4 linked regions of the Homo sapiens genome follow. The protein of the gene in region 4 purifies or fractionates together with the protein of the main gene of each other region. This does not show direct contact. Each region holds a gene or a part of one and is shown on either strand. Other genes may lie near its edges. The genes, in order: C1QBP, SNU13, RRP9 and FBL.

What was found.
Region 1: the proteins of FBL (region 4) and C1QBP purify together in Homo sapiens (affinity purification with mass spectrometry; 6 studies listed by BioGRID and IntAct, with this or other methods). This does not show direct contact.
Region 2: the proteins of FBL (region 4) and SNU13 purify together in Homo sapiens (affinity purification with mass spectrometry; 5 studies listed by BioGRID and IntAct, with this or other methods). This does not show direct contact.
Region 3: the proteins of FBL (region 4) and RRP9 purify together in Homo sapiens (affinity purification with mass spectrometry; 5 studies listed by BioGRID and IntAct, with this or other methods). This does not show direct contact.

What each region holds. Positions count from the first base shown.
Region 1 is NC_000017.11:5,436,137-5,443,508, forward strand, and holds the start of C1QBP (complement component 1 Q subcomponent-binding protein, mitochondrial precursor), read right to left. Parts: upstream 3,020-7,372; 5' UTR 2,938-3,019; coding exon 2,706-2,937; intron 2,138-2,705; coding exon 1,987-2,137; intron 1-1,986.
Region 2 is NC_000022.11:41,678,853-41,685,878, reverse strand, and holds part of SNU13 (NHP2-like protein 1), read left to right. Parts: intron 1-3,291; exon of another isoform or gene 3,292-3,520; coding exon of another isoform or gene 3,521-3,523; intron 3,524-5,514; coding exon 5,515-5,635; intron 5,636-7,026.
Region 3 is NC_000003.12:51,932,912-51,938,913, forward strand, and holds the end of RRP9 (U3 small nucleolar RNA-interacting protein 2), read right to left. Parts: intron 5,294-6,002; coding exon 5,184-5,293; intron 4,826-5,183; coding exon 4,758-4,825; intron 4,676-4,757; coding exon 4,634-4,675; intron 4,408-4,633; coding exon 4,281-4,407; intron 3,645-4,280; coding exon 3,520-3,644; intron 3,439-3,519; coding exon 3,346-3,438; intron 2,782-3,345; coding exon 2,681-2,781; intron 2,566-2,680; coding exon 2,431-2,565; intron 2,349-2,430; coding exon 2,286-2,348; intron 1,866-2,285; coding exon 1,720-1,865; intron 1,641-1,719; coding exon 1,561-1,640; intron 871-1,560; coding exon 797-870; intron 689-796; coding exon 595-688; 3' UTR 518-594; downstream 1-517. UniProt on the Homo sapiens protein: Component of a nucleolar small nuclear ribonucleoprotein particle (snoRNP) thought to participate in the processing and modification of pre-ribosomal RNA (pre-rRNA).
Region 4 is NC_000019.10:39,843,364-39,850,413, forward strand, and holds the start of FBL (rRNA 2'-O-methyltransferase fibrillarin), read right to left. Parts: upstream 3,017-7,050; 5' UTR 2,938-3,016; coding exon 2,928-2,937; intron 1-2,927.

The sequences.
Region 1 (7,372 bases), on a different chromosome or scaffold from region 4:
AGAGGCAGTCTGAGGTTGACAAAATCTGTCTAATTCCAACTGTGCTGACTAAGCTGAGCTCCTGGGCACAGAAATTGAATGACGTTCATCAGAGCATTATTTTTAATGGCCCCCAAATAGCTATGAAAACCTTGCGCAAATGGTGTTTAGGTGAGATTACAGAAGACACAATTGACCTGTGTAGGGCAAAAACACACTATGCAACAGGCAAGAGAATCAGGACCCTACTTCACACCATATTCAAAATGAATCACAGACCTAAACTAAGAGCTAAAACTAGAAAACTTTGAAAAAATTAAGGCATACATCTTCACAACCTTGGGTTAGGCAGTGGTTTCTTAGACGTGACACTAAAAAAGCACAAGTTGCACTTGGTGAATTAGAAGCAAAGTAAAAAATAAATAAAAAAGCACAAGCGACCAAAAAAATAGGTAAACTGAACTTCCTCAAAATTAAAAACTTTTGTGTCAGAGGACATTACCAAGAAAGTGAAAAGGAAACCCACAAGATGGGAAACAGTACTTACAAATCATTAATTTGATAAGATAGTTGTACCCAGAAAAACTTAACTTTTACAACCCAACAATTAAAAAGGTAAATAGGGTGGGCAGGGTGGCTCACACCTGAAATCCCAGCACTTTGGGAGGCCAAGGCGGGCGGATCACGAGGTCAGGACTTTGAGACCAGCCTGGCCAACACGGTGAAACCCTGTCTCTACTAAAAATACAAAAATTAACCGGACGCACGCCTGTAATCCCAGCTAAGGAGGCTGAGGCAGGAGAATTGTCAGAACCTGGGAGGCAGAGGTTGCAGTGAGCCAAGATCGCACCACTGCACTCCATCCTGGGTGACAGAGCAAGACTCCGTGGGGTTGGGGGGGGAAGCTACAAATTGTATGACTCCATTTATATGAAATGTCCAAAAGAGGCAATCCCATAGAGAAAGTAGCTTAGTGATTACCTGGGGTGGCTACAGGGAGGAATAATGAGTGACTGCTAATAGGTATTGTTTGGGGATGACAACAGTGTTCTAGAATTAGGTAGTGATAACTGATGCATAATTCTGCGAGGACTAAGAACCACTTAATTTAATAAACTTCAATAAATGGGTAAATCGTATGCCATCTCAATTAAATCTCATAAAAGCTGTGATTTAAAAAAATTACATACACATCATAAGGTCAATTATGAAGGAAATTCAATTTATTTATTTATTATTGAGATGGCGTCTTGCTCTGTTGCCCAGGCTGGAGCGCGGTGGCGCGATCTCGACTCACTGCAACCTCCACCTCCCAGGTTCAAGCGATTCCCCTGCCTCAGCCTCCCGAGTAGCTGGGACTACAGGCACGTGCCACCATACCCGGTTAATTTTTACTAGAGCCAGGGTTTTAGTGTTAGCCAGGATTTTCTCCTGACCTCATGATCTGCCCGTCCCAAAGTGCTGGGATTATGGGTGTGAGCCACCGCGCCCAGGCTCAATTTAAAAACCTGGAAGATGCCAAATGTTTATCTGTGTAATGAGATTATGGATGACTATAATGCAGAAAAGTGTAAACACTTTAACAGTTTAGGAGATGATGGGGGAGCTGACTTAGGTCACAAACTCCCCACCTCTGATGGCAGCCCTTACTACAGTGTAACCCCATCCTGTTACATAGAAGTTACATATTTTTCATTTTCACCCATACTAAACATTAGAGAGCAGTGTCCTATTTTATCAGGGCTGTAAATCAGAGATCAAACTGATTCTGCCAGTACTTTTTTGCACTACATTTTTGTCTCCTTAGTAACCAGCCCACAGCAAATTTGTGTTCGGTGAATGGACTGCCTGGGGCTTACGAAGTTGTCCAAATGAATCCTTCACTCTCTTGAAACCCATTTATCAAAGTATCCACACCTGAACTCAAGGCTCTTCTGGGGATGACCCAGGATGGGTCCTGCAAGGTTAAGGGAGTTGCTGCCCTGGGATCCCCAGACCAGTACTTACTTTTCCCCGGCAACTTTCCGCACTAATTTCGCTTCTGTCCCATTCAGTTCCAGCTCCCAACCTCCAGACATCTTAGGGAGGGTTTTATGCTTCTGAATTTTTCTTTCCTCCTTAATTTCATCACTCAGGAAATCAACAAAAGCTTTGTCTCCTAGAAAAGAAATCCAGATACATAAAAAGGAAAGCCAGTTAGTCTAAAACATAAAACTATTACCCAGGTTATTGCAGCCAGAAACCTGGACTGTTTCTAATCTCTCTGCTATTACGGTTACTCTAGAAGCCTGTTTCCTTATCGGTAAAAATACCATAATAGTAGTAGGAAGCTGAGCCTGATTCTGGAAAAGTGATTTCCAACAATGAACGCATTACCACTTTCCGCTATAAACCAGGAGAATTTCCAATCCTCTTCCACTTGCCAAACGATATAACTATGCTATTTTCAACCACGACCATGGGCCTTCCCAAAGGTCCACTTTCGATAGAATAAGACTAAGGAAAAAGGTACCCTAGTATTTAATTTTATTCACCCCCTACCAAAAGAAAACGAAACTGCTGGATAGGGGAGGTGGGGGAAATATGATCATACGTGGGTTTAGCCCGCTGGTTGCCAATCAATGGAAAAATGTCCCAGACCTCAGAGGTCGGTTGCAGGCCCTATTCCTGGTCTACGTTTTCCCTCTGTTGAACGCAAACCACACCCCCGGCCCGCTAAACCTCACCGTCGGTGTGCAGCGAGCCGCAGCCACAGCCACAGGCGCAGGGTCCGCGAGGCCGCAGGAGGCCCGGCCGCCGCTCGGAACCTGCGCGCACGCTGAGCAGCCCGAAGGGCCGGGTGCACAGCCGGGGTGCCGGCTGCAGGAGCTGCCGGAAAGGCGAGGCGGGCGCGGCAGCGCGGAGGCCGGCGACGGAGGAGCCCAGCACACGGGGCACGCAGCGCAGCAGAGGCAGCATCGCGGAAACGACTGCGAACACGTGCAGATGCAAAGGACAACCCAGGCCTAGGCGCCCCGCGACCTGAGGCGCCGCCGGAAGCCCCGCCCCTGCCCGGAAGCGCTTCCCGCGCCGGCGCTCTGACGACCTAAGGCCAGCGGGCGGAATCGCGCCCTCTGCTGGAGACTCCGGTGCAGCCCGGGAAGCCTCGAATCCGGATTCCGGAGCTTTCTTGCTGCGCTGCCGAGTCCGCTGTCCGAAGCTGTTTAATTCCCTCTAGTGGCCGCTTACCCACTTTCCACCTGCTGTTCTCAAAGCACGCAAGGCTTTTGGGCTGCGTGGAATGCACTCTTGTCTCCCGCCAGCTCTCACCAGACCCTTCCACGGTCACTTTCCTCTAGGAGGCTGTGGTGTTATGATATATATATGTATTGGTTTTCATCCACAGTTCCTGGGTCGTAACTCCTATAGCCCTTGTTACAATGTTCTGTGATAATGTTGGGTGTGTTAGGCCTCAGGAAACAGACTCTCCCCTTCTCCTGCCCTCCTTTTACCTGCCCCAAAGCAGGACTCTAATCTCCTTCCACATTTCTGATTATGGGTCTTAAGTCCCTTCCCAGAGAAGGTCCCACCATATACCCTGGGGGAAGGGATGCTGATGTCCAGAAGCTTCCATAAAAACCCAAGAGGAGAGGGTTTGCAGAGCCTCTGACAGCTGAATACGTAGAGGTTCCTGGAGGGTGGTGGCCCAGGGTAGGCAAGGAACCTCGGAGCTTCTTCCCCATTCCCCACCCTGCTCATCTCATCTGTATCCTTGGTCATATCCTTTATATGAAACCGGTGAATGTGTTTCCCTGAGTTCTGTGAACTGCTCCAGTGAGTTAACATAATCCAAAGAGGGGGGTCGTGGGAACCCCAACTTGAAGCGGGTTGGTCGGAAGTTTCAGAGGCCCAGACTTGCCATTGCTGTCTGAAGGTGGGGGCGGTCTTGGGGACTGAGCCCTCAACCTATGGGATCTGACACTATCTCCAGGTAGATACTGTTGGGATTGAATTGGAGGACACCCAGCTGGTGTCTGCTGCTTAGTGTGGAGGGGAAAAACCCAAACCTTTGGCCACATAAGTCTTCTGTGTTGATTGTTGTGTTGTGAGAGCAAAGGAAAGTCTGAGGGTTTTCCTGAAAGAGGCCTTCTAGAACCTTTTTTTCCACCGGCTCGGAACTCATGCTTGTGCGCACCCAGCCCATATGCTTCATTCTCTTTTCAACAGGAACCTCCTAGCGTTGCTGCTTTAACCAGGTTAAACCCAACCAGACTGTGACATCCTCAAGGGCAGGATCCATGATTAATTTTTGTGACCTTCCCTCTCTGCACCTCCAACCTTGCATCCAAGTTCTAATGGAACATCATTTTTCTGGGGACAAGAAGCCAGCTTATATCATTTAGATAAGTCCAGAGGCTTCCATAAAAACCCGAGGACAGGGTTTGGAGAGCCTCTGATAGCTAAATACATGGAGGTTCCTGGAGGGTGGTGGTCCAGGGACGGCATGGAGGCTGGGAGCTTCTTCCCCATTCCCCACCCTGCTCATCTCCTTATCTGTATCCTTGGTCATATCTTTTGTATGAAACCGGTAAATGTGTTTCCCTGAGTTCTGTGAGTTTCTCCAGTAAATTAATATAACCCAAAGACAGGGTTCAGATTTATTAAAAATCAACAATCCTACCTTCCCAGGATATACAGGACATATAAGCTACTAAGAAGGTATGTCTTACTAACTCATGGTAAGACTAACACTTAATATTTTCTAAATAATTTTCTATGAATAATGGAAAAGAGATGCAAGAAACAAGCCACACACATCATATACAAGATTCATTTTTAATGGATTTGATCGTCGGGTGCAAATTTGAGCATTATTTACAAGAGCTTTCTGTAGAGTTATTTCTGTTCAAATAAAACCAGACTCTCAAAATACAACATAAGCCTGAACCTACTTGATTTTTTTTTCTCCCTCTAGTTACCAAGGAATATCGTATCTCAGATGCATGGCCTACTATCACACTGGTCTTTAAAGAAAAAAAAAAATGCATGGCCACAGTTCCAGGCAGTTCCTGGTAGCTGGATTTAGTGGATTTATATATGACAGTACAGTACATCATCAGTTTCACCCACAGGGCAGAACTTGCCTCCATTCAGGCATCTCTTTACAACTGGCAGCAATGCAGCATTAAGGGTTTTTAGCCAGGACCTGCTGTTTGCAGTCCTGCCCCTTGTAGTGTTACTCTGGGTGTTGCACACTCCATGATTACTAGAAGACAAACACCTGAGGCATGCAATCTGCTTGGAGTGCATCTATTTACATGAAGCTGCTCACGGGAGCTGGTGATTCTTCCAGATATGGGTTTCGTAGGTTGGCAAAGAGTTATCACACCATCAGAGATTTTACCAATGGAAAGAGAGTAGCTGAAGATTATATTGCAATGTTATTGTGAAACATTTAACTTTCTTAAGTTTAAAGTGTACTATCTCCTGCAGCTCAATATAAACAACGATGTATTTCTTTGTAGCAGTATGTGGAGTCAGAATGGGTTTTCCAATCTGATTTAATCCCTGAGCAGCTATGTTAAAAGTTAACTTTTTAAAAAAGCCCAATAAAAAACTAAATACTGTATTAAAACTCTACCACAATGTTACAGGGATAAACTTATTTCTGTACAGAAACATTAAAGCTACTTAGAAGCTGTTTACATCCTTTGCCTCTCAGAAAAAAAATATACATTTCCGGAAACTGTTCAGGTACTTAAGCTGGACATAAATTACCCCAAGTTTTTTCTTTTTCTTTCTTTCTTTCTTTTTTTTTCTGAGACCGTCTCACACTGTCGGCCAGGCTGGAATGCAGTGGCGTGATCTTGGCTCACTACAAACTCTGCCTCCCAAGTTCAAGCAATTCTTGTGCCTCAGCCTCCCCGGTAGCTGGGATTACAGGCGTGTGCCACCATGCCCAGCTAAGTTTTCTATTTTTAGTAGAGACGGGGTTTTGCCATGTTGGCCAGGCTGGTCTTGAACTTCTCAAGCAATCCACCCACCTCAGCCTCCCATCCCAATGCTGGGATTACAGGCATGAGGTGATCCGCCCGCCTTGGCCTCCCAAAGTGCTGGGATTACAGGTGTGAGCCACTGCGCCCGGCCACCCCCCAATTTTTTTTTTTTTTTTTTTTTTTTTACCAGCACTATGAATGATTAAAAATACAATATTTTTCTTACTAAGTAGGACTAAACATTCTAATCCCCTACTGGAAAACAAAAAACAAAAAACAAAAACTGGAAAACTTTTCAGAAAGTCAGCAGTGGTAACAAGTCAGTAAGTGGAAGAACTGGTTCAAAGTTTAAGAATTCAGTAAGATAAGGTATATAGGAGCTGTCAGATCTTCTTTTGCCCACGTATAACCATTTCTGACAGACAGCCCTAAACACTAGCTGAGAGCTTGACTGCACAGGACCACGGCTAGTGTTGGAAATAAAGACTGAGCCGGACTTGACATACACAACTCCGGACAGATGGGACCCTGGAATGGGGCTGCTCCATCAGGCCACAGCTTCCAGAAAGAGAGCATCCATGATCTCTGAAGAGCCTCTTGGGCAGCTTGGCCCCTGGTTATAACTATGATTCATTCATTAAGAAATGACAAAACACCCCACAGATGTATTTGGACCAAGTAAGCACAATAAAAGAGCTAAATCACGGCTTCTTCTAGGGCAAAATATTATCTGGGGAAAGATTACTTGCTTCTGATAATTAAATAGCTAAGAGGAACCGTTAGTGCCTTTTCTCTGCTCAGAATATCAGAACAGGAACAGACTGTGGATATCCTCCAATTCCCTCTGACAATGAGGGTTAGAGAGAGGTGCCTAGCAGTTAGAAAGCAGCAAAGCCAGATTGTCCCAAGTCCCTACGAAGAAGGAAAAAATATCATAGAAAATTAATAAGATGCAAGAATAAGTGTTACAGCTCTAGCTCTTTTAGAATTTGTCCAGCAGGTCTTCTAGACTTCACTGAACTGCCCCCCACCCCCCCCGCCCACACACCAAAAAAGATACAAGAATGTAAGCCCAGATGTGGTGTGGTATCTGGCATAAGCCAATGTTCTCTGGGTTCTAGGTACCCCTCTCCCCTCCCCCACCCCCACCCCCTCTGACCAGGGGACTGCCCGAAAAGAAACAGCTGAAATGGTACACAGTCACTCCTCATGCCCGCATGTTCACTGGTGCCCAGTTAGAGAGAAAAATGGCAACTGTGTATGTGGGAGTCACCTACACACACAAAACACTGATAGGTCAGTTTCCCATGTCTACACGTGACAGGATTCAGAAGGTACAAATCAACCTTCACCCAGGAAGCTTACATGTCTCCTGAAAGCACTGACAGGGTCACGCACTGAGGACCAGGAGGCTCCTT
Region 2 (7,026 bases), on a different chromosome or scaffold from region 4:
CTCCTGTTTCAGCCTCCCGAGTAGCTGGGATTACAAGCATGTGCCACCATGCCCGGCTATTTTTTGTATTTTTTTAGTAGAGACGGGGTTTTGCCGTGTTGGTCAGGCTGGTCTCCAACTCCTGACCTCAAGTGATCTGCCTGCCTCAGCCTCCCAAAGAGGTGGGATTACAGGCGTGAGCCACCACACCCAGCCTAAACAATTTTTTTTTTAATTAGCCAGGAGTTGGCCGGGTGCAGTGGCTCATGCCTGTAAACCCAGCGCTTTGGGAGGCTGAGGTGGGCGGATCACAAGGTCAGGAGTTCAAGACCAGCCTGGCCAACATGGTGAAACCCCGTCTTTACTAATAATACAAAAATTAGCCGGGCATGGTGGCGCATGCCTGTAATCCCAGCTACTCAGGACGCTGAGGCAGGAGAATTGCTTGAACCTCGGAGGCAGAAGTTGCGGTGAGCCGAGATTGTGCCACTGCACTCCAGCCTGGGCAACAAGAGCAAAACTCCGTCTCAAAAAATAAAAAATAAAATAAAATAAAATTAGCCAGGAGTGGTGGCCCACACTTGTAGTTCCAGTTACTGAGGAGGCTGAGGCAGGAGGATCGCTTGAGCCCTGGAGGTCGAGGCTGCAGTGAGCTATTGTCATGCCACTGCACTCTGGTCTCAGTGATAGAGTGAGACCCTGTCTCAACAACAAAAAGGGTGTAATTCTTTTTTTTTTTTTTTTTGAGATGGAGTTTCACTCTTTCGCCCAGGCTGGAGTGAAGTGGCATCATCTCAACCTACTGCAATCTCCGCTTCCCGGGTTCAAGCCATTCTCCTGCCTCAACCTCCAAGTAGCTGGGATTACAGGTGCCTGCCACCACACCCAGATAATTTTTGTATTCTTAGTAGAGACGGGGGTTTCACCATGTCATCCAGGCTGGTCTTGAACTCCTGACCTCAAGAGAGCCACCCACCTTGGCCTCCCAAAGTGCTGGGATTATAGGTGTGAGCCACTGTGCCTGGACTGCCCCAGCTAAGTTTTTAAATATTTTTAGAGATGGGGGTCTCACTGTGTGGCCCAGGCTGGTCTCAAACTTCAGGCCTCAATCAGTCCCCAGCCTCAGTTTCCCAAGTTGGTGGGATTATAGGCCTGAGCCACTGCAGCCAGTTCAGAATACACTCTTCAAACATGGAACGTTTTTGAAAATTGGCCATAAAGCAAGCCCTGCAAATTTTAACATTGGTAATATTACATACCATTTTTGCCTAACCCAAAAGGAAATAAGTTAAAAATTAGTAACAAAGTAGTTTGAAATGAAAAATATAAACTATCAGAGAGATTTAAAAATTGTAGTAGGAATTCAAAAATAGAACAGAACAATAATGAAAATACCACATACCAGAGCATAAGTGACAAGGGCAGAGGGGGGAAGAAACAAATGAAAGGATATAATGAAAGTATTACTTGGAGCCTAAGATGCTAATGCTAGGGAGAAACGGGATAAAAAGGTAGAAAAAAACACTAGCACAAAATAACCCCAAAGAAAGTAGAAGGAAAGAAAAAAAACAAAAGGAGAAATTGCTGAAATAGAAAGTAGAGCATACTGCTGGGTCTTTTCCTTTCCGAAGCCCCTCTTTCTCACCAGAGAGAGCTGTTCTTTCTCTTTCTTTTGCCTATTAAACCTCTGCTCCCGGCCAGGCGCAGTGGCTCACACCTGTAATCCCAGCACTTTGGGAGGTCGAGGCAGGTAGATCACCTGAGGTCAGGAGTTCGAGACCAGCCTGGCCAACATGGCAAAACCCAGTCTCTACTAAAAAATACAAAAATTAGCCCGGTGTGGTGACGCGCACCTGTAATCCCAGCTACTGGTGGGGGCTGAGGTAGGAGAATTGCTTGAACCCAGGAGGCAGAGGTTGCAGTAAGCCAAGATCGCACTACTACACTCCAGCCTGGGCAACAGAGCAAAACTCCATCTCAAAAAAAACAACAAAAAAAAACCCTGCTCCTAAACTCCTGTGTGTCCATGTCCTAAATTTTCTTGGCATGAGACAACAAACCCTGGATATTTACCCCAGGCAACGAAGCTAGTTCAGTTTGACACTGTTGTCAAAGTTTTGGGGAATTAGTCACTGTCATGCATTGCTGGTGGGTGTGCAAGTTGTTAAACCCTATATAGGGTCAATTTAGAATAGATATAAAAGTTACAAATGCATATTATATCTTTTGACTCGTTAATCCCACTTCTAGGAGTTTATCTTACAGATATACTGAATGAAACATAATATAGATTAGGTATAGATGAGATTAGACATTATAGCATTTACATAATAGTGAAAGATTAAAAAATATATAAATGGGCTGGGCACAGTGGCTCACACCTGTAATCCCAGTACTTTGGGATGCCCAGGCAGGAAGATTGCTTGAGGCCAGGAGTTCACGACCAGCCTGGACAACATAATAAGACAGTGCCTCTAAAATTAAAAAATTAGCCAGACGTGGTGGTGCATGCATGTAGTCCCAGCTACTTGGGAGTCTGAGGCAGGAGGACCACTTGAGCCCAGGAAAGTCCCCCTCAGAAAGATTAATCGAAAAAATAAGGCCAGGCACGGTGGCTCACGCCTGTAATCCCAACACTTTGGGAGGCTAAGGCAAGCGGATCACTTGAGGTCAGCAATTGGGAGACCAGACTGGCCAACATGGTGAAAGACCTTCTCTACTAAAAATACAGAAAAATTAGCCGGGCGTGGTTGTGCATGCCTGTAGTACCAGCTGCTCTGGAGGCTGAGGCTGGAGAATCGCTTGAACCCCGGAGGAGGTTGCAGTGAGCCAAGATGCCACCACTACACTCCAGCCTGGGTGACAGAGCGAGACCCTGTCTCAAAAAAGAAAATGTTTAAGTAGGTAACATGTGAAGGAGACATACTCTATAGACATTAAAAAGAAAGGATGGCCAGGTGCGGTGGCTCATGCCTGTAATCCCAGCACTTTGGGAGGCTGAGGCAGGCAGATGACCTGAGATCAGGAGTTCGAGACCAGCCTGGCCAAAGTGGTGAAACCCCGTCTCTACTAAAAATACAAAAATCAGCCGGCCGTGATGGCGGTCACCTGTAATCCTAGGTACTCAGGAGGCTGAGGCTGCAGTGAGCCGAGATCGCGCCACTGCACTCCAACCTAGGCGACAGAGGGAGACTCCGTCTCTAAATAAATAAATGTATGAGGAAGAGAAAAATAATATGGAGGTCTTCCCTTGACCTCCCCCAACCCCCTTCCTTTAGAGAACTCCTCCATCCTTCACCTAATTCTTCCTAGTTGTCCTGGGACCAAGACAAATTCGCCTAAGATAAGGAGTTACGTAGAAGACAGGGCGTCCTGGTGTACGGGCTGGCCCTGGACGTCACTTCCGCTGGCGGCAGTGGCGTCACTTCCTGCTCTTGGGGGCGGGGCATCCGTGTCCTTGCGGTGCTGGGCAGCAGACCGTCCAAACCGACACGCGTGGTATCCTCGCGGTGTCCGGCAAGAGACTACCAAGACAGACGCTATGGTGAGTGTTCCTACTGGGCCATTATCTCCGGGTCACCTCCCGAGAGCTGTGGTGCCGCGAGCGTGGTCCCGCTGTGTCAGAAAAGCTGTAAAAAAACGGAAGGAGGAAAAGGCAGGTGCGCGGTGTCGGGCAGGAGACCACCGAGGCAGGCGCTATAGATGAGTGGTCCCACCAGGCCATCTCCGTCTCCAGCGACTGCCGTCCACCCTATGTCCAGCCTCCAAGGCCGAGGTTAGGTGGTAGCCGCAGTGAATCACTCGCGATTCGCACGTTACACACGATGGCGACATGTGGGGCCGCACCTGGGTTATAATATGAATATATCCTTGTATATAAATATGTGTTTGTAAAAACAAAAAAAAAAAGAGAAAAATTAATGAAAATGATTTACTGGAGCAGTGGGAATGAGATGGAAGGAGCGGAATAGGCAGGCCACTCACCCAATATGCTCCCTACATGGGTGTGTATTTATTTATTTATTGAGACGGAGTCTCGCTCTGTCGCCCACGCTGGAGTGCAGTGGCGCCATCTCCGCTCATTGCATCCTCCGCCTCCTGGGTTCAAGCTATTCTGCGTCAGCCTCTCGAGTAGCTAGGACTACAGGCGTGAGACACCGCGCTCGTCCCCTACATGGGTTATTTTGACACAGATCTGAATGACATCATTTTATCCATAAGTATTACAGTATATATCTATAAAGTAAGAATTTTTAACATAACTGCAAATGCCATTAATTAGTTAATAAGGGTTGCAAGTTGGTGATATTTAACTGTACCATTCCCTCTTTATTTATTAGGCGGAAGAGTGATACAAGAGGTACTTCTCATCTTCTACCTGGTTACCGCCTAATACAGCATTTAGGAAAGGCACAGAAGATGATTGTTTCCCTTTCCCAGTTTTCAAAATATTGAGTTGCTATCACTTGCATAGTTTTGACTTTTAAACCATGAAGATATTTTACATATTTGAAAAATAAAATTTAAAGCAAGCTGACTACAAAATAAATCTACTTGTATACCAAATTGCTAACCACAAGGAAAATTTTAATTTGAATAACTTTTGAACAAAGTCCTGCCACTGGATGGCTTTGATAGGATATATCCTAAGAACAAAAATAAATTTTGACTTTGGTGAGTTTGTTGGTAGAGGTGGTATATTGGTGTAGCAATTTTGGAACCATTTTGTGTGTATTGTAGAGGAGGTGAGGAAATACTTTAATGTGTTGGAAACCATGGGTTTGAACAGAAGATACGCATATGGAGTGGGGAATGGAAAGAAAACTTTGTGCTACATTTACTGTAAATTATATCTTATTGATTCAGTAAATTCAGGTGGAATACGGAAGTTCAAATTTAAAGATTACCCATGGACTCCTGACCTCAGGTGATCCACCCGCCTCGGCCGCCCAAAGTGCTGTGATTACAGGCGTGAGCCAGGAGTTTGAGACCAGCCTGGCCAACACGGTGAAACCCTGTCTCCACAAAAAATACAAAATTAGCCTGGCATGGTGGTGCACGCTTATAGTCCCAGCTACTTGGGAGGCTGAGGCACAAGAATCATTTGAACTCGGGAGGCAGAGATTGCAGTAAGCTGAAATCGCACCACTGCACTCCAGCGTGGGCAACAGAGCAAGACTCCATCTAAAAAATAAAAACAGAAATGGATTAGCCATGGACTCAAATGGATGCGGAGCCATGGGAACCCGTTTGTAATCCATTTGCTGTAATATTATCAAACATTCGGCTGAAGAAAGACAAAAGTACATGAGCTTTAGTATACTTTACTGAACTGTGTAATTCCTAATAGTGTATTTCCTTTTTTTCGAAGGTAGGAGTGGAAAGTCCATTGTTAACTACCTGGTGTTTTGTGTGTTTGAGGGTTAGGGAGCAGGGCAGCTGCCCCCTGTGTCTCAATTGTTGATTAGTATTTTGTGACTCAGGTAGGAAAACTTCTGGCTCAATTTGTCTGATATTTTTATGTCCCCCCCATAGACTGAGGCTGATGTGAATCCAAAGGCCTATCCCCTTGCCGATGCCCACCTCACCAAGAAGCTACTGGACCTCGTTCAGCAGTCATGTAACTATAAGCAGCTTCGGAAAGGAGCCAATGAGGGTAAGGCAGCCACAGGATGCTCTGGGGGAATGTTAAAGGCACCTGTTTCCATCTGGGGCCTCTGATCTGATTTCCAGTTTGGGAGGAGGGCTAGCTGCTCTCGACTACAACCAGTGGGAGGACTTTGGCATTAGATGCTAAAGCTGATGGGCTAAGAATTTTTTTTAGACCCACCAATTGTTAACATTTTGCCACATTTACCTTCTTTTTCACTCTATAAGTGAATTTTATTTTTGCTGAGCCATTTGAAAGCAGTTGTGGAGACTGTATAGTGGCTGTATGACCTCACCAGAGCCATCAGAAGGAAAGGGATATTAATGCTTTTTAGCATCCCTTATACGGTGGATACTTAACATTCATGAATTTCATTTGGTTCCCAGAAACATTCCCTACCCCTCTCCCTTTTTTTTTTGGATGCAATTATTCAAAAACATGGAACGTTTCACGAATTTGCATGTCATCCTTGTGCAGGGGTCATGCTAATCTTCTCTGTATTGTTCCAATTTTAGTATATGTACTGCTGAAGCGAGCACTACCTCCCTTTGTAAAAAAGGAAAAAAAAAAAGCTGTTTTTCAGTAGAATAATTATGTATGCATGATGCTTCTGCCCAGAGGTGATATAGGATACTCTCACTTTATTCATTATTATTTTTTTAATTTTATTTTATTTATTTATTTATTTTTTTATTTGGAGAGTTTTGCTCTTGTTGCCCAAGCTGGAGTGCCATGGCAGGATCTCAGCTTACTGCAACCTCCGCTTCCCGGGTTCAAATGATTCTCCTGCCTCAACCTCCCAAGTAGCTGGGATTACAGGCATGCACCACCACGTCCAGCTAATTTTGTATTTTTAGTAAAGATGGGGTTTCACTATGTTGGTCAGTCTGGTCTCGAACTCCTGATCTCAGGTGATCTACCTGCCTTGGCCTCCCAAAGTGCTGCTGGGATTACAGGCGTGAGACACTGTGCCCAGCCTTATTTTTATTTTTATTTTTTTTCAAGTAGAGACGAGGTTTCACCATGTTGGCCAGGCTGGTCTCGAACTCCTGACCTGAAGTGATCCGCCTGCCTTGGCCTCCCAAAATTCTGGGATTACAGGCGTGAGCCACTGTGCCCGGCTGCCCAGCCTTATTTTTATTTTATTTTATTTTTTTGGAGACAGAATCTCGCTCTGTCGCCCAGGCTGGTCTTAAACTCCTGAGCTCAGGCAATCTGCCTGCCTTGGCCTCCCAAAGTGTTAGGATAACAGCAGGCGTGAGCTACCATGCCCAGCCAGAATACTCTCATTTTAATAGATGCTGGGTAGTTTGATGTGGTAGAGCTCTTTTGTCGTTGAAGATTTTTAATGGAAACATCAGAGATTTTGTCAACTGTGTTTGAGATTTAGGAGAACT
Region 3 (6,002 bases), on a different chromosome or scaffold from region 4:
TGGCAGGTAGGTCCTGGTTCTGACATTCAGACCAAAGACAGAGCTCTTCCCAACTTGGACCCCTGTCTCCAAACAGTAAGCCCACCAGTGCAGGGTCCCACTCCCACTCCTGACCCCCACACCTCACGGCAGTCTGTCCCCTCCAGCTTCCTGACCTGACCTGGGAGAGGAAGCGAAGCCAGTTTGATGTGCAGGTCCGCTGTCTACAGTCCAGTCCTGACCCCAGCACCAGCCCTTACAAGCCCTGGCTTCTGAGCTGAGGGGTGAGTAGCTTCTGACCCCGACCACCCAGAGCAGTGGCAGGCAGCTAGCCTGAGGAGGTCGTGCAGGACACGCAGGGACAGGAGCCAGGAGCCAGTTGAGGTCTCCATCCCAAGTTCTTTGGAAAAGGATAACAGCCCTCAGGCTAGCAGAGGGGCAGAGCTAGGAGACTGCTGGAGTCCTGTCCCTCCCCAGGCCGCCTCCCACCCAGTCCCTCATGCACCCCCACCCCCACCAAGAAGCTACAAGAAACAAGGCCCAAAAGAGGAGGCTTTTAATACAAAGAGGGTGGGGCATAGCCTGGGAAGGACTTAAATAAGGAGGATAAGAGTGTCAGGAACCAGCAGCTGGGGGTACAGGGACCCTGCGGAGTGGGATGATGCAGACAGAATTCCGAGCCTCTTTGATTCTCCACCATCGGCCAAGCCTGCAGGGAGTGCAAGACGCAGCTGAGACTCGGCCCAGTCTCCACCCCATTTCCACCGAGCTGTCCAGCCTGCACCACCTTACCTGAACCCTCGAGGGCCACACATACCTGTGCTCCTGCCCTACCCCAGCCACCAGGAAGTCCCCAGAGCTGGAGAACTTGAGGCTGTTGATAAAACCCACCTGAGCAGAAAGACAACACGGAAAGACATTAGAACGCCCCCCGCCACCACCGTCCTCAGCATCACAGTCAAGGGCTGGGCCTTATCAGGCCTGGGTTAAATCCCTGCTCTGCCTCCTGCCACCTGGTGACACAGGCCAGCCCTTCACTTGTCAGGGCCTCAGCCTCCACATCTGCGAGATGGGGGTAAGCAGAGCACGGGGCTAGCAGTGAGTTTGTGAGGATGAAGGAGGCAGTGTACACCCAGTATGGCCTGAGGCTGGCTCCTGGTGGTGGGGCCCTGGAGACCCCATGACTGTCCCCACTGACCTAGACCCTGCATTCTCAGCACACATCACTGACAGATCCTGCCACCCTCCCCCAGGTCACCCTAGTGTGGACAGTGAGGTCCACACCCTCTAGCCTGGCACCCAATCTGGCACCAGCAGTACAGAATTCATCACAGGGCCAGGCCTCCATGCCTCTCCCCATGCTGCTCCCTGACTTGTACCCCAGCACCCTGGACAGGGCCTAGGATAGGAAGGGGAGCAGAGGAGGGAAAGTGGGGAGGGTTCCTGCCAGGCCCTGTGCTAGGAGCTGGCCCTGCCCTGAGAAGGTTCCCTTCTGGCAGGAAGAAAGACCTTAAAGAGCTAACTCCAGGGGCCTAGGCAGTGTGGCAGAGACAGGCTGAGCATTCAAGCACACTCACTCACCAGGGGGATGTCACAGAGAAGGTCAAGCTGCCGGAAGCCTTCCCCACACTGCCAAAGCCGCACACAGGAGCTGTGGGAGCCTGGGGAGACTGGAACAGTGAGCAACCCCTGCACCGGCCCACCCGGCGACCCCTCCTCCCTGCCTCTCAGGGCACCCACCTGTGGCCACAAGGTCTGTGTTGAGGAGGGCTGCCACCGACGATATCCAGAAGGGCTGCTCCAGGCCTGGCTCTCCCCGCAGCCCGTGAGCTTCACGCTGCAGGGCAAGTGGTCGCTTCTTGGAGAGACCCCACAAGGCCACAGAGCTATAAACAGGGAGGGAATACAGCAGTGAGGGGGCCAGAGGCAGAAAAGGCCCCCTGTGTAACACAAAGGATTAATGCTTGAGGGGATGGATACCCCATTTCCCATGATGTGATTATTACATATTGCATGCCTGTATCAAAACATCTCAAGTACCCCACAAATACGTACACCTACTAAGCACCCACAACAAATTTTTTTTAATTCTAAAAAAAAAGAAAAAAGGCCACATGACAGGAAGGGATCAAGGGCACACAGCCCGGACAAGGCCATCTGAGCTCTCTGCCTCATCATCCTCATCCATGAAAAGAGGTTACAACAGCTCCCCCACTGGGGGTGCCCTGAGGCAAGCTCAGGGCCCCGTGGACAGCCAGCACTCAGGAGCAGAAGCCGTGGCCAGAGACATCCAAAGGACCTCTTACCCATCGTCCGCGCCGGACACCATGTGCTCCTCATTGATTAGGTGGATGCAGTCGATGGAGCCCCTGGAGAAAGGGGCTGTGAGGAGCGTGGCCCAAGCCCACCCCCAGCCCATGTAGCCCCCACTGGCATGGCAGGCCACCTTACTGGTGGCCATAGAAGACAAGCTGGGACTCCTCGGGGATCTTCCACACACGTACAGTCCCATCCCGGCCCCCAGCCGTCACACAGCACTCCCGGCTCAAGGCATCCAGTGCAGCCACAGCGTCCTGGTGTCCGAAGCTAGAGGGCCGGGCAGAGCAGGATAGTGGGGATAGGGGTACTGCATGAACTCACGGGCACACACTCCCACACCCTCTCTCACACCATCCACACACCCTCTCCCATCCACACTCACAGCGTCTCCACGTAGGAGTTCTCTGCCACATTCCACACCTTCACGGAGCGATCGTGGGATGTGCTGTAGAGCTGGTGGGTGCCTCTGCGGAATGCCAGACCCTAAGGGTGCATGGGGAGAGGGCAAAGGGGACCTGGACTACAGCAGGCGAGAGACAGGTCAGGCCCAGGGAGGACTTCCCAAAAAGCAAGCCATGTGGCACGTGCTGTGAGGCAATTTTGTACTGCCCACATGCCCATCTGCCCCTGAGCAGATGCAGACGTCTTTTTTATTTATTTATTTTTTTTAGCGACAGGGTCTCATTCTGTTGCTCAGGCTGGAGTGCAGTGGTGCGATCATAGCTCACTGCAGCCTCCATCTCCTGGGCTCAGATGATCCTCCATCTCGGCCTCCCAAAGTGCTAGGATTATAGGCAAGAGCCGCTACATCCCGCCCAGAGGCGGCTTCTCAAGGCCCTCGTTGATTCCTGAGCAAGCTCGGCCCGGTCTCCCCCAGCTCCTCCCCATCCCTTTAGCCCATTTATGTATTTTACAGCACCACTCGCTACCCACTCGCTACCCCAGGATGCAGGTTCCCTGAGGACAGAGACTCCAGAGGCCAGCACTGAGCCTAGAACACTAGCATGTGCCCACTAAAGATCCACTGACATAGACCCAGCTCCTCACCGACACTGCATCCCGGTGTCCTGTGAAGGTGTACAAGTGCTGGCAGCTCTGGGCCTCCCAAATGAGAATGAGCTTGCTGCGGTCACCAGAGGCCTGCAGGGATGAAGACAATGATCACAGGCACCCACCATGCACCAGACCTCCCGCCTGCCCCCAGGGCCAACCTGGCCTTACAAGGTACTTGCCGTCGGAGGAGATGGCCATGCAGAGGACGTGGCTGCTGTGGCCAGGGGGCTTTCCCTCGGCACCCTTCTTGGCTCGAGGAATCACATGCAGCTTCCGTCCACTCTCCACGCTCCCTGCAGTTGGGGGTGGGGGAGAAGCTACTGGGATGGGGGGATAGGGCTGGCTGGCAACCCCCCTCAAGGGGCAGCATGGAAAAAAGAGCCATGGCAAATGTCCCGGACTCGGCCAGAAGACCTGGCTCAGCCACCGTGAGCCTCCGGACAAGCTGCCTCAGTTTCCTCATCTATGAAGAGGGACATTAGTGCCAAACAGCAGCCACAAAGCCCAAAAAAGAGAAGGGATGTAAAAGGGCTTTGGGATTGATGGTGTGAGTTCTTCTGTTACTACAGCGGGTGTAGAAGGAACCGCTGGTCAGCCAGCAACGGATGGGAACCCAGGAGGACCGGGCACTCAATCCCAGGACTGCACAGCCTCAAATGTCTTCTAGTCCAACCACCTACCTGCAGCATTAATTCCCATTAAATCATCATCCTGACTTTGCCCAAAGGTCTCTAGGGACAGGGAGCTCATAAGCCCCACTGCCGGGCAGCAGCTTTCACTGTCACCCAGAGAGCACTCCTAGGGCAGCAAACCTGCCTCCAGAGACTTCCCCACTTCAGGGCTCAGCCTGCCATGACCACTCCCACTCCCCTGACCAGCCCTCCCGGATCCGCCATGGGGGCTCCAGCCCCACCCAGGCACTCACTCACACTTAATGATGCTGCAGTCTTTGGCAGCAGAGAAGATGGCTGAGTCATCGGGGGTGACGACCAAACATGTGATAGAGAGCTGGTGCCCCCGTAAAACGCGAATGTCAGCTGAGGCTGGGGCCTGGATCTGGGCAGACAGGGGCCAGGTCACTGTGGCTAGTGGCATAAAGGCACTACCTTCACCAACCCCACTGCGTAGTGTTGGCCTTTCCCACCCAGGCCAGAAGGAAAACAAGACCCAAGGCTACAACAACCAGATCCTTACCTGACCAGATAGGCCCAAGTGTCCACCATGTTCCAAGTGGGGCCCCCAATTCCCTCCAACCTTATACCAAAATACCATGCCCACTCACCTCTTTTGCCACCAACTTCTGCAGCCTGCCCCTCTGCTCAAGCTGCATGGAGAAGAGATGGATGAGACCCTGGGAGCAGATCAGCTCCACCCCCGTCCTCCCCCAACTCTCCCTCCACACTTACCACATCCTCCTTCAGGCGCCCCGCCACCTGGTCCTCCTCAAATGCACGGGCCTCAGCCTTCTCCTCCTCTGTGCAGGACAGACCAGACCAAGTAAACTGAGGCTGAGACCCCTCTTTCCCTTCCATCCTGTCCCCATCCCACTGCCCCAGGGCTGGATAATGCAGGAAGCTCCAGCTGCCTCAGCAGAGGGGAGGGCAAGCTGGAGGGTTTCCTCCTGCCTTTACTTATCAGATCAGCCCCCTGCGGGCTCCCCAGGAGGCCCATGAGAGCTTCTGGCCACCCCCACAGGGCAGCCAGCACTGACAGCCTGGGCACCCACTGGGAATCCATGTCAGTCACCCATCAAGTGGCTGGGGCTGCAGCGGCGGGCAGCAGACCAGCACAGGCAGAAGCCCTGCCCATGGCTGGCCTGCCCACTGGCTCACCTTGCTGACGGAGCTGCTCTAGGTAGAGCTTGGCCAAGCGCAGCTTCTTTTCCTGTGCAGTTTCCTCCAGCTCCTCCTCCTCCTCCTCCTCAGGCTTCCTTGGAGCTAGGCTGTGGGCAGGAAGGGGCTGGGTCTGAGGGGCTCACCTTGTTCCTCTGACCGCTAGGATCGTGCCTTCTGGATGCTCACCTTGCCATCCAACCTCCCCTATTCCCTGCTAGCCCACATGGTCGGTGACTACACTGCAGAAAACTGAAGGATGTGACTCCCCAAACTAAAAGGCCCCACTCAGTGCCCCACGTAGGGGTGGAAACAGACCCAAATCCCAAAGAGATCACTAAAGCCTCTCAACTCTGGGGGAAAGAGGAGGCTTCCAAGAGAAACCAGGCTTCCAAAAGAAATCAGGTCACATACAAAGAGTCAGGAATCAAAATGTGCAGGCATCTCAACAGCAATACTGAGAACAAGAAGACAAAGAAGCCTCACACACAAAGCTCTGGAGGAATACACTGACCCCTAAAATGCCATGCCCAGTCAAACAATCAACGACGACACTGCCAGGTGTGCAAGGTGCCATGGAATTTTCTCCCTCTTTTTCTTTAGGAAGGATAGAAGCTGTGCTCCCAAACAAGAGGGTAAACTGGGAAAGAGAAAGGCAAGGGATACCGGAAACCAGAGATGCGACACAAGAGAGCAGAAAGGGTGACACTATCCCCAGACATGACGGGGGCAGTCTGGATCAGATCCAAGGACCCACCAGGCAGACACACCAGGACTGTCATCACCACAGCACCATCCTTTACCCTGGGAACAAGGTTC
Region 4 (7,050 bases):
CACTCCCCTCAAGTATCGCATATGGAGAGATAGGCAATGTTGCTGCCACTCTCGACCCTAGTAAGGAAGGTTCATAGGGGTCTTGAAAACTTCATCTGTAAGACATGGAGACAATACAGTGCCAGGCCACGCGCCATAGCTCATGCCTGTAATCCCAGCACTTTGGGAGACCCAGGCAGGCGGACAGTTTGAGGCCAGGAGTTCAAGACCAGCCTGGCCAACATAGTGAAACCCTGTCTCTACTAAAAATACAAAAAATTAGCTGGGCGTGGTGGCGCATGCCTGTAATCCCAGCTACTCAAAAGGCTGAGGCACAAGCATCAATTGAACACAGGCGGAGGTTGCAGTGAGCTGAGATGGTGCCACTGCACTCCAGCCTGGGTGACAGAGAGAGATTCTGTATCAAAAAAATAAAAATAAAAAAAATGCAGTGCTCATCCTATAGGGTTGTAAAGATTAAATGACTTGTACCCACAGAGCACATCACATATATACTATCTGGCACCTACTTTGAACATCATCATTCAAACTCAGGGGTACGCGTCTCCTCTTCCCTCCTCATGTACCAAAAGTACCCATTCCTCAGAAAAAACACATGTTCACACAAACTTTTCCAGTTAGTTCTTTTTTCATCTTTCTATTAAAGATGAAAATGTAACTTTTAATAGCTACTCCTAATTTGATCTTTTAAAATGAAGTTTCCTTTTCAAAACTCTAGAACATAACTAAGAGTTGTTCACTTTTTAATGTTCTACTCCCCCTACAGTCCACTTTCCACACAGCAACTAATAAGTGCTGTTTTTGAAACAGCAACTCAGATCTCAATTTTCTTGCCCAAGCCCTCCAACAGTTTTCCAAAGCCAAGACCTTCATTTAGGGGAGATGCCACAGCTAGGCTTATGAAAGTCTCAACCCAGGCCTAACAGAAAGGAAGTACTGGCATGTGCTTGGGGCGGAGTGGGCATGAGTGTAAACTTTCAATCCCAGATACTCAAAACATCTCAATCCGTTTCAGGTCCTGGAGCTTTTGGGGGAAAATGTACCAAAAGTACCCAGTCCTCAGAAAAAACACATGTTCACACAAACTTTTCCAGTAAGTTCTTTTTTTGGGGGGAGGGGGGTCCATAAACCCCCTGATTTAAAATCTGCTCTCCTTCCACAGCCTTCTCCATCTCAAAAATGGCAATTCCATCCTTCCAGTTACACACCCCCAAACCCTTGGTTATCCTTGACTCCGATCACACACCCACATACAATCTGTTGGTTCTGTCTTCAAAAGCATGTAAAACTGTCAGCATGTCCACTGCTCCCATCCTGGTCCACCACACCATCTCCTAGATTACAGCAACAAGCTTCCCACCAATGTGCCTGCTTCCACTTTTGCCACCCTGAGGTCTTTCACACATCGAAGCAAAAAGAATCCCTTTTAAAAATGTCAGACTGCACCACGCCCCTGCTCAAAAATCTCCCAAAGGGTTCTTTTCTCACTCAGGCTAAAATCCTTACTAAAGAGCTAACACCTGACAACTTTTACAACTTCACATTCTACCACACATGGAGGAAGGTTGGAAGAACGGGTATCCTCCATTTATGAGGGAATCACAGACCAGAATGCCTGCAGGCAAGCCAGGATCTCAGCATACCTGGCCTACAATCCCCCACCCCACTTCATCAAGAGATCCCCAAACACGGAAGAGAAAGGGAACTTGGGAGAAGGGCACAGATCCACAAATCTCCTGCCAGGTGACCCCCATCTCTCCACACAAACACACACACAAAAGAAAAAGAAAGCCTGTACTAGGAAAACAGACCCTTTGGGCCATGGTGGAAATTCTCCAAACTCAATGAAGCAAGTTCTCACACAGATGAGTGCGGGTTGGGCAGGCCAGATGGAGGAAGTGCTCAGGCACCACCGAGAAGGATTCTAATGTTGTTCTCTTTGAGAAAGATAAAGGTAACAATTAGAGCTAATACTATTATATGTCAAGCACTGTGCTATTTTTTTTAACGTCGCTTAATCCTAACTGGCGCCATTTTATTGATGAGAAAACAGAGGCTCAGAGAGGTAAAGCCACTTGCCCAAGTTCACACAGCAGGCTAAGAAGCTGAGCAAGAGCTGACACACTGAACTGAGGCCCTTCTGCTGTCAAAGCCAGGACCCCCTCATCATTCCACCATGAAGGGAGTGGTTTCAGCAGAATCTAGTGGAAAATCTTAAGAATAAAACTACTTACCTCCTGTGACAACCACCCGCCCCACCACCCCAGACTAATGCCGAGCTTGTTAAGTCTCGTCCCGGAGGTGGAAATCTTAATCCCCAAATCTCCACTCCATCCCCGGGGATCCGCCCCACTGTAAGTGCAGAAGGCGGGAAAGTGAGCCGAAGAGCGCCGCACACGGCCAACCGGGGAGTCCTCATCCACTCCGGCCCACTCGGAAAAGCTGGGATGCGGGATAAGGGGATGGTGGTGGTGGCAGCGACAGGGAAGGCAAATGGGGGCTTCCCACACACAGCTCCAGGACCCAAGGTCAGGAACTCTCCATCTCCGACCCAAGCCTGATTCCCAAAACACGCCCAGCGATCCAAGACTCCAGATGCCTGAATCCAAACTCTAGCCCAAGACCCTTGAGTGCCGCCTCCTGCCCAATATCCAAAATCCCTATTAGACGGCCTCAATGAGACGAACCCCACGTCAACACCCCCAATGCCAGGCCCACGGCCTTCTTCGACTCACGACCGTGACCTCTGAAGCCAGTCACAAACCCCTAGACCTGCTGGAATCAGAATCCCCCTTCCCACAGGAGACTGGAACCCGTGCTCAGAACCCCTGCCCCCAGGCCAAGGCCCCACCCCTCCGATTCTGGCCTGGCACCCGGATTCCCGCCCGGCCTCCGTCCCTGACCCCGGACCCTCACCCCAGCCTGACCTGGCTTCATGGCGAGCCCTGGTTTGTGCGGCTCCGGAGTCCGCGGCGTTCACAACTCCACGAGTCCGGGGCTTTCGCACGTGGAAAAGAGCGCAGGCGCGCGGCGACGTGCGCTGCGTGACGCCACCCCGTAGTCCCGCCCCCGGGCCCCTTCCCCGCCCGGAGCTCGGCGCACGCGCAGTGAGCCTGGATTCTCGAGCCTGTCGACACGCAACCCGCTGCCCTCGCTCTCTGCCTTCCCAGCCTTTGCCTGTGCAGCGGTCGCCCTAAACTCGCTTCCGGTTTCCTCTTCCCCAATGCGAGCACCCCAATAATCAGGGCTCATAGCCTTCGCACGGGCTGTGCCCTCTTTTGTATTCCTAGCTAAATCCCTCTGGCCCCTGTACACCCAAAAAGGCTTCCCCAATACATTTCCAGCCCCAAGAACAGTGACCGACTCTGGGCTTCCATTCAAACATCCGAAAAACATTTACAGTGCACCTCGTGTGTACCAGGTGCTGTTCTAGGAGCTGGGAATACAGCGGTGTACGAGACATAAAAATCTCCACTCTCCTGGAGTTCATCTTTTTAATGGAGGAAATAGACACCAAACATGTTGAATGTTTGAAAGCGATAAGTGCTTTGGAGAAAATAACAGCAGGGAAAGGGGATAGAGATTTTGGAGGGCAAATGATTTTTGTTTTTTTGGCACGGTGGTCAAGGAATGCATCAGGAGACTTTTGAGCTAAAGGGCTGAAGGAAGTGAGGAGTGAGGCATGCACCTATCTAGGGGAAGAGAGTTCCAGGCAGGGAAAAGATCTGCAGATGCAGAGGCCCTGAGGAAGGAAAGATATGGGAAGTTGGAGAGACAATGAGGAGGGTGGGTGGGGCAAAGTGAGCAAGGTGGAGAGTAAGAGGAGATAAGGGCGGGTAGCTAACAAGGGCAGATTGTGCGGAGCTTTGTGGGACATAGTGAGGACTTAGGCAGTAAGATGGAACCATGGAAGGGTTCCAAGCAGAGAAGGAATGTGATCTGACACAGGTCCCTCTGGCTGCATGTGGGAAGCAGACTGCAGGAGTGAGGGTGAAAGCAGGAAAACCAAGGACTGGCTGCTGCCGTGAATCAGAAGAAAAGGATGGACAGATCAGAGTGGGGGCAGAGAGCGGCGTCAGGGGTCAACAGATTCTGCTTAAGTATTAAGAATTTTGGGCTTTGTAATTGTGTAATATCAGTATCCATCCCTATATTCATTCTGCAAAGCAAGACAACTGCTGTTATGAGAAGTTACCGAAAAACTCCAGAAGAACCTACCAGTCCAGAGCCTAGATGTTGACTCTGTTCCATTCACTGCTCTATCACTCTAGGCCTAGGACAGCCCTCTGGGTGCCCAGTAAATGTTTGTTGAATGAATGGATGGCCTCATACCGTTGTGAGTTCTCTGTGTACAGTGTTCCAGCTGTGGAATGCCACCAATTTGCACAGAAACATTCCTGAAAGATTGTTTAGATATTATGATGGAAAATCTGCTTAAACTTTTCAGAACCGGTCGGGGCAGTGGCTCACACCTGTAATCCAGGCACTTTGGGAGGCCGAGGCAGGAGGATCGCTTGAGCCCAGGAGCTTAAGGCCAGCCTGGGCTACAGAGTGAGACCTTATCTTTACAAAAAATAAAAAATTAGCTGGGTATGGTTGCTTGCACCTGTAGTCCCAGCTACTCAAGAGGCTGAGGCAGGAGGATCCTTTGAGCCCAGTAGGTCTAGGCTGAAATGAGCCATGACTGCACCACTACACTCCAGCCTGGGTCACAGAGCGACACCCCTGTCCCAAAACAAAAACAAAAACCAAACAAAAAAAACTTTTTAAAAACTATGAGATGAAATAGTTGAGTCTATTCTGGATTTCTAGATGTGCAATGATTCCAGTGGGTCCAATTCCGGATAATGTTACCTATTTCACATGGATTTTACTATTTGCCTTCTAATTAATATTTTTCTTCTAAAGGACAAAAGTACTCAGAGTGCAGTGCAGATTTAGGGGATTCCAGCCCTATTTCTTGGAATCCTGGCACCATCTCCTGCTTCTGAGATACTTTGCCTGCTAGCTTGCTCTGAAGACCTGAAATTGGCTCTATCGGTAAGTAATTAGTGGTGGAGGTGCCTGTTGGTCTTGTGCTGGGGACACAATGGTGGCTAAAACAGCCCCGGGTCCTGTCCTCCTGGAGCTGCCAGTCCAATAGGAGAGACAGACAGGTTCCCAAACAGTGTTGGCCCAGAGGGGTCAGGGCTGGGACAGGCAGAGGGGTAGGAGGGCAATGGGGGAAGCACCGGCAGAAATGGGACTGGGGAGCCCCAGGCAGGGGGCTCAGGGCCAGGATAGGGGAGGCCCAGGCAGAGAGGTGGGAGGGGGATGGAGGAGACACTGGCAGGCAGGGCAGGGCAGGGATAGCGAAGCCCTTGAGGACTTTTCCCAATATTCCCCATTTCCTCAACTCCCTCTGAACCTTCCTGTGACCTTCTTGCTCTAAGGAGGACTCTGCCCTGAAGACCTCCCTTTCCAAGCGGGGCTGTTTTCTCCTTCTCGGCCTTCATGTCCACTGGATCTGTAGATGGGAGAAGAGCGTCCTTGCTCCTCACTGGCACTTCTAAACCATTGTCTCTGCCTCCTCCCTGAACCCTAGGTCTGAAGCTTACACAGTCACACTGTAGCACCTGCTCCCCTTTGTGCTGCTAGACCCATTGACTCCCAAGTCACCTCTGCTCACCTCGTCATTTAGCTTCAGGCTCACTGTCACCCACACCACTCCTGTCATTATTCTTGGTGATTTTCAAATTCAGGTAAATGATCCTTTTACCACTCTGGCCTCTTGGTGCCTTGACCTCCTCTCCCCCACTGCACTTGTCCTCCACCCAACCCTTCTTTCCCATGATCACACCTAGACCTTGTGCTGGGAACACACAACAACACATAACTGTGACAGCCCCAGAGGTCCCAGCCTGGTGGGGGAGAAGGACCCATTCTAGATGGCAACAGCCGCATAACCACAGCCCCTACAGAATCTCAGCTCCATGCATCTCACGCTCTGCCCGTCACCTCCTGTCTCTCCAGCTCACTCCTTCTAAAGATTGCACCAGTGAGCCTTCAGCCCTAACCATCCATTAAGCTGTCTGACTTGTTGCTATCCCTCCCCCAATCATGGCCACACCACTCTCAACTACCTAGCCAGATTCCCCACCATCATTATTACCACACCTTTGCATACCTCCAAACTATGAACTGAATTCAACCCTCCATTTATTCTGCACCTGCACCCCTGGCAGCTGAATGTGGATGGAGAAAAATACAGAATCACCCTGGCTGGTCTCGGTTTTGATTCATGACTACAAACCCAAATGCTTAATGCTGACCAGCAATCCTATCACTTGCCCCCAGTCTATTCATTCTCCATTTTTTCCCACCCTGTTGATGGTATAGATAACACATGGCCATGGGCTGAATTGTCTCCCCACACATTCACTTGTTGAAGTTCTCACCCCCATTGTTATGGTATTTGGAAGTGACAGCATTGGGAGGGATTAGGGTTGGAGGAGGTCATGAGTGTAAACCCTCATTATGGGATTAGTGACTTTATTATTATTATTATTATTTTTGAGACAGAGTTTTGCTCTTATTGCCCAGGCTGGAGTGCAATGACATGATCTCGTCTCACGGCAACCTCCACCTCCCAGGTTCAAGCGATTCTCCTGCCTCAGCCTCCAGAGTAGCTGGCATTACAGGCATGAGCCACCACGCCCGGCTAATTTTGTATTTTTAGTAGAGACGGGGTTTCTCCATGTTGGTCAGGCTGGTCTCGAACTCCTGACCTCAGGTGATCCACCCACCTTGGCCTCCCAAAGTGCTGGGATTACAGGTGTGAGCCACCGTGCCCGGCCAGGATTAGTGACTTTTTAAGAGGGAGAGAGGGAGAGATGCAACCCAGGAAGAGGGCCCTCACAGAGAATCACATCAATCAGCACCTTGATCTTGGACTTTCCAGCCTCCAGAGCTGTAAGAAATAAATCTCTGTTATTGGAACCATTCAGTCTATGGTATTTTAAGACAGCCCACACAAACAAACACACATGTATTAATTTTTAAAACTTTATT